Homo sapiens: one gene and its partner. Changing the gene in region 2 together with the main gene of any one other region gives a genetic interaction. Each region holds a gene or a part of one and is shown on either strand. Other genes may lie near its edges.

Region 1 (3,500 bases), on a different chromosome or scaffold from region 2:
ATCTCCTGACCTTGTGATCCGCCTGCCTCGGCCTCCCAAAGTGCTGGGATTACAGGTGTGAGCCACCATGCCCAGTCTAGTATCATATTCTTTTTTGTTAGAATGAGCCTTTAGGGGGCTTACAATGAATTAAATAAGCAAAACAAGGAGTAAAATTGAAAACCCTTAGTTTTCTTCTTTTGTGTAAAAGATTACTATAATGCAATAAAGAAGAGGTCACTCCTTAAAGTTGCTTGGTGACTAATCTTCAGATCTAATCTTCAATTATTTTACACTTAAAATTAGTAAATGTCACATTTGCAAATAATGGCTTCAAAATTTAATAAGCTTTAGGAAACTTGTACATTTATAATACCTAACAAAAACCAATGCCCATCCTCCATAAACCCTTTCCTTCTCTAAGTCTTTGGTTCTCACACTGCTAGAGTATTTATGTTTGATACGGTACTGTCATTTTGGCATTCCACCACAGAGTATATCATGCATACTGCTATTTATTTCATGTGAGATTTATCTCCCCAATGAAACTTCAGATTGATTGAAGACAGAGACCACGATGACATATAATCCCCACAGAACCCAGCAAGACATTAAATACAGTGAAGTATATTTAAGTTTTTACAACTTCACTCAAGCGACATTAGTGTTTCTTAACAAAATTAATGTGGCTATGTTTATATTTAAACTTTAACCCCCTTGGCCAATTATTTGGGTCCTCCATCTGGCTGTGACCTGCTTTATTTTCTAAAGAGTCTATTCCAGCATTTCCACTTTTCTACACAGCAGTGAGAAGCCTAGCATACAACTCTAAACCAATTCTGCCTCTACTCATTTGTTACATAAACTCATTAAAATTTATAGAAAGCGACTTTGTGATTAGAAAAAGTCAAGGAAACCAATTAATTAAATCAAATTATATACTTAATTTATTTCTAAATATATGCAAATAAGTTCAGTAAAGGTTTAGCTTTCCCAAACCTTAGGTGTCCACAATCGTCTTATTAGGTCATAAAATGACCTAATGGTTCACTGAAAAAGAACACTTAACTAAGAACTGATGACCTGGATTCAATTCCAGGCAAATCGCTATAATCCACAAAAACTTCAGCAACTCAGTCAACATCTCTAAACCTCAATGTCTCCCTCTATATAAAATGGGGTAATGCCTTACCCACCTAGCTGGGTTATTTGGGGAAGCAAAAGAAATAATAAATTATTTGAAACTATACATTAAAATATGAATTGCCAGTTTTGTTATTTACTTCATTGAAGTTAGGAGCGTTTTGCCAGAGGAAGCACCAAAAGTTGTTTGTTAAAGATCAGAGAAGAAAACTGAAGTATGAAATTTTATCAATAACTTTATAGCTGAGAGCTTTAGAATTTAAAAAGTTCCAAAGTTCTACCATTTTAATTACTGTTTGGAATTTGGCATGCTAAACTTATCTAACAAAGGCTCAAGAGAAAAGGTTAAGAATCACGAGAAATTCCCTAGTATGACAGATAAGTAAGGTTTACTTATCACAAAGAAGAAAAAAATATTTATATATATATGTATATATATTACCAGATTTTTCAGGAGCTCACATCCTAAGCCGCCAGCTCCAATGACTAGAACTTTACATGTATCTAACAAGAACTGGAGAGACTGTAAAGAATGGAAAGGCATATTAAAAGCTGGGTGATAACCGCAAAGACTATAAATAAAGCAACAAACTTTAAAATAGTTTCTGATGTTTCCAGGAAAAAATGCCACTAGGATAAAGAGGAGACTTTGTATTTGCTCAATTATTTGAAATTTGTGAATTCTATTGAACCAGGAATTCTAAAACTCTAATGATTTCAGGAAGTTTCAATGTTAATTTTTCTTTTTTTTTTCTTTTTTTTGAGACGGAGTCTCGCTCTTGTCACACAGGCTGGAGTGACTGATGGGATCTCGGCTCACTGCAACCTCCGCCTCCCAGATTCAGGTGATTCTCCTGCCTCAGCTTCTCGAGTAGCTGGGATTATAGGTGTGCACTACCACACCTGGCTAATTTTTTATTTTTAGTAGATACAGGGTTTCACCATGTGGGCCAGACTGGCCTTGAACTCCTGACCTCAAGTGATCCGCCCGCCTCAGCCTCCCAAAGTTTCTTGGATTACAGGCATGAGGTGCCGCGTCCGGCCATTAATGTTTTTAAATTGCCTTTTATTGTATGAAAGTTAAAGGGTATTTTTAACAAGGAAAACTATCTCTAATTTGTTTTTTAATTTTTGCAAAGGGATAGAGAACATCAAATTCAGTTAACTGACTTCCTAAAAATATAAAAGTTTAAAAATTTAAAAAACAGAGGATCAAGCACTGCCCAAAGTGTTTAAAGGAGTAAAACAATAAGGTAAAAAGAGTAACAGGGCTGGGCACTGTGGCTCACACCTGTAATCCCAGCACTTTGGGAGGCTGAGGTGGGTGGATCACCTGAGGTCAGGAAAGACCAGCCTGACCAACATGGTGAAACCCTGTCTCTACTAAAAATATAAAAAATTAGCCAGGTGTGGTGGTGGGCGCCTGTCATCCCAGCTACTTGGGAGGCTGAGGCAGGAGAATCACTTGATCCTGGGAGGCAGAGGTTACCATGAGCCAAGATCACACCATTGCATTCCAGCCTGGGCAACAAAAGCAAAACTCCATCTGCGGCAGATGGAAGGGGAAAGAGTAACAGCTGCTTTTTTTTTTCCTTTTTGAGACAGGGTCTCACTGTGTCACCCAGGCTGGAGTGCAGTGGCATGATCAGAGCTCCCTGCAGCCTCCACCTCCAGGTGCAGTCAAGCAATCCTCCCACCTCAACCTCCTGAGTAGCTGAAACCAAAGACATGTATCATCATGCACAGCTAATTTTTTTTTCTTTTCTTTTTTTCTTTCTTTTTTTTTTTAGAGATGGGTTCTCTCTATGTTGCCCAGGGTGGTCTGGAACTCTTGGGCTCAAGTGATCCTCCCGCCTTGACCTCCCAAAGTGCTGGGATTACAGGCGTGAGCCACCTTACCTGGCCAACATCTCCTTTTGAATAAAGTGAGCGAAACTCACAAAACATGAGATAACACGAAAACATATAAAACTCTTAGAAAATTCCTTATCAGCAGAAATACAATCATTTAACAGAAGTAACAATCTTAAATTATCAGGCAAAAAAAAAAATTTAGAAGCACAAGAAAATATGGTGTGTTATCTAAAGAAAGACAGAATTAATACTTTCAATTCTTTTTCTTTTTTTTTTTTTTATTTTTAATGCTTTCAGTTCTGCCCAGCATTAAAGGAGAAAGTTATTCACATGAGACACTGGGCCAAACCAAGAGTTTGCACGTTAATTTATGGGAGTAACACAATATTTCTATTTCAAAATACTATCTTTTTATAAATACAAAAGCACATAAAGATGTGCTATACTTTTCCCTACCCTGTAATAAAAAAAAGTGACATATAAGTGAACACTTGCCTTAAGATAGACACTATCAGTCCAAAATT
Region 2 (2,555 bases):
TCCCCTCACAGCAGTATCTTTAAGTTCTTGTTAATTAAGCTTTAGCCTCCAGAAGTTCTGTGAGGACAGTGGCCATGTCTAGCTTGTTCAGCATATTTCCAGAGAGTAACAGTCACCAGCTCAGGAAAGGTATGTGATGAATATTTGAAGGACTAGATACCCTGTGCTAGGCTGTCTCTAATAAGTATTTGATTTTCAGGAAAATAATTTATGGTACTACTCAGCTAATGTTTTGTAGGAACATTAAAAGTGTTCCTAATACATTATTAAAATAATGAACTGTTAAATTATATTTTACTTACAGACAGTCAAAAGAAGGGACAAATTGAAAAGTGGTTCTGACAATCAGTATGGCAAGTGAAATGCTGAAATTGACTAATTTAGATAGTCTAAACTTAAAAATAGAAAGTTCTAATAAATATATTTTCTCTCATATTCAAGAACCGTAATGGATACTAGAAAAATATTGCGAATCTTCCCACAAAAAAATCAAAGGACAATTTCATTTTAAAGAGCTTTATTACAGGATATTAATATTTAGGACACTTCAGAGCACCTTATACTTCTAATCAGATTTTGGGTAACTGGTTTTAAAGTGTTACTTGAATATTTTTCTCATACTGTCTTTCAGGTAAAGTACTTCTCAGAGACTGTTTAAGAGATGTTAATTTGATTAAACAGTTTATCCTTAATAACCTGAGACATCAATCCATGGATAGCTTCTATGGTAGTTTTACAGCTGGAAAAAAAAACACACATCACATGATGTCATAAATTGAAAACTATTTCAAACACACAAGATCAGCCCCAATCCATCCATGTAACTCCAATGAGTTTAGTTTTATTCATACTTCTCAAACCACCCCAATCTGAAGTTTTCCCTTGTGATTTTATTAGTCTTCCCCATGTCTTTTTGACCATTTCATTACTTACTAGAACTTTCACAAGAGAATGACAACGTAAAATTTGATACAATTGTTCTGTTTTAGAAGGTGAGTAAAATTATACAAACCTGTAATTAGAGATTGATTCTAATATTATATTATATTAAAATCTGTTATTCCTTGTTTATTACTTAGGATAATTTGACAAATAATTTTAAAGAATACTATGCTTTTTTCTGAAATAATCACAAGCATCCTCCAACAATCAGAAGTCAAACTTAGGTTAGCGGGTGAAGGCCTTAGATTTTAGAAATGATAAAAAGTATAAGGCAAAAGAAATGACAAAACCCCACCAATACTCAGAAGAGATGCAATTCTTGTAAAGCTACCCCAAAAAGGAAAATTCTCTACTTTTGATTACTACTTCTGTTCTATTTCTTATATAATTGAAGACATTGCCATAGTAAAATTTTTGCTTCATAATTAATAAATGTAGATAAACTGATAAATGACATACATAAAGACAGATGAACAAAACACACACTCAAAGCAAGTATCTAAAATGACTCCTGATGCCAACGAAAAATACTTTTTTTTGGAGACAGAGTCTCACTCTGTCACCCAGGCTGGAGTGCAGTGGCACAATCATGGGTCACTGCAACCTCTGCCTCCTAGGCTCCAGTGATTCTTGTGCCTCAGCCTCCTAAGTAGCTGGAACCACAGATCTGCGCCACCATGCCCAGCTAATTTTTTTTTTAAATTTTTGCAGAGATGGGGTTTTGCCATGTTGCCCAGGCTGGTTTCAAACTCTTGAGCTCAAGCAATATGCCTGCCTTGGCCTCCCAAAGGGCTGGGATTATAAGCATGCGTCACCATGCCCAGCCGAAAAACGCAACTTTTATGCAGGCCACTAGCTCTACCTTCTAAAAACCCACTGAGAAGATGGCAGTGAAATAAGGCTAACCCAAAATGACCTCCAATCCCAGGATACACTTTAGCTACTCTTTTCTCTTCTTTTCCCTATAAACCAAACCAGTTCTTAAAATAGATACCAACATATAAATGTTTATAGAAGTCAATATGTTTCTTCCTTCCTTTCTGCCTCTAATTATTGCATTACAATTCAAATTTCTTTTCTTTCTTTTTTTTTTTTGGAGACAGAGTTTCGCTCTTGTTGGCCAGGCTGGAGTGCAATGGCGCCATCTTGGCTCACTGCAATCTCCACCTCCTGGGTGGAGGTGATGCTTCTGCCTCAGCCTCCTGAATAGCTGGGATTACAGGTGCCCGCCACCACGCCCGGTTAATTTTTGTATTTTTAGTAAAGATGGGGTTTCACCATGTTGGCCAGGCTGGTCTTGAACTCCTGATCTCAGGTGATCTGCCTGCCTTGGCCTCCCAAAGTGCTGGGATTACAGGTGTGAACCACTGTGCCCGGCCTAAAATTCAAATTTCTGTGAAAGTAAATGTTATTAATCTTTGCAACTTTGTATAGCCTATATATCTGAAGGTCCACATAATTATTTCGTAAGTTATTAAAGAACACATCCCAAATTTGTTCCTAATAAAATCTTTGGTAGTAAAATTTGGGATACTAAATTACTGTTTTAGAAGCACAATTTAAGAGAGAGACAATCACTTCTGTAATATCTTAGGATTTAAAGCTTTATTGAA

The links. Genes that interact genetically often act in the same process or in processes that back each other up.
Region 1: changes in COPS5 (region 2) and UBA3 together harm fitness less than expected from each alone (positive genetic interaction), as found in Homo sapiens cells (one large-scale study listed by BioGRID).

What each region holds. Positions count from the first base shown.
Region 1 is NC_000003.12:69,073,866-69,077,365, forward strand, and holds part of UBA3 (NEDD8-activating enzyme E1 catalytic subunit), read right to left. Parts: intron 1,646-3,500; coding exon 1,565-1,645; intron 1-1,564. UniProt on the Homo sapiens protein: Catalytic subunit of the dimeric UBA3-NAE1 E1 enzyme. E1 activates NEDD8 by first adenylating its C-terminal glycine residue with ATP, thereafter linking this residue to the side chain of the catalytic cysteine, yielding a NEDD8-UBA3 thioester and free AMP.
Region 2 is NC_000008.11:67,042,579-67,045,133, forward strand, and holds the end of COPS5 (COP9 signalosome complex subunit 5), read right to left. Parts: intron 740-2,555; coding exon 655-739; 3' UTR 501-654; downstream 1-500. UniProt on the Homo sapiens protein: Probable protease subunit of the COP9 signalosome complex (CSN), a complex involved in various cellular and developmental processes.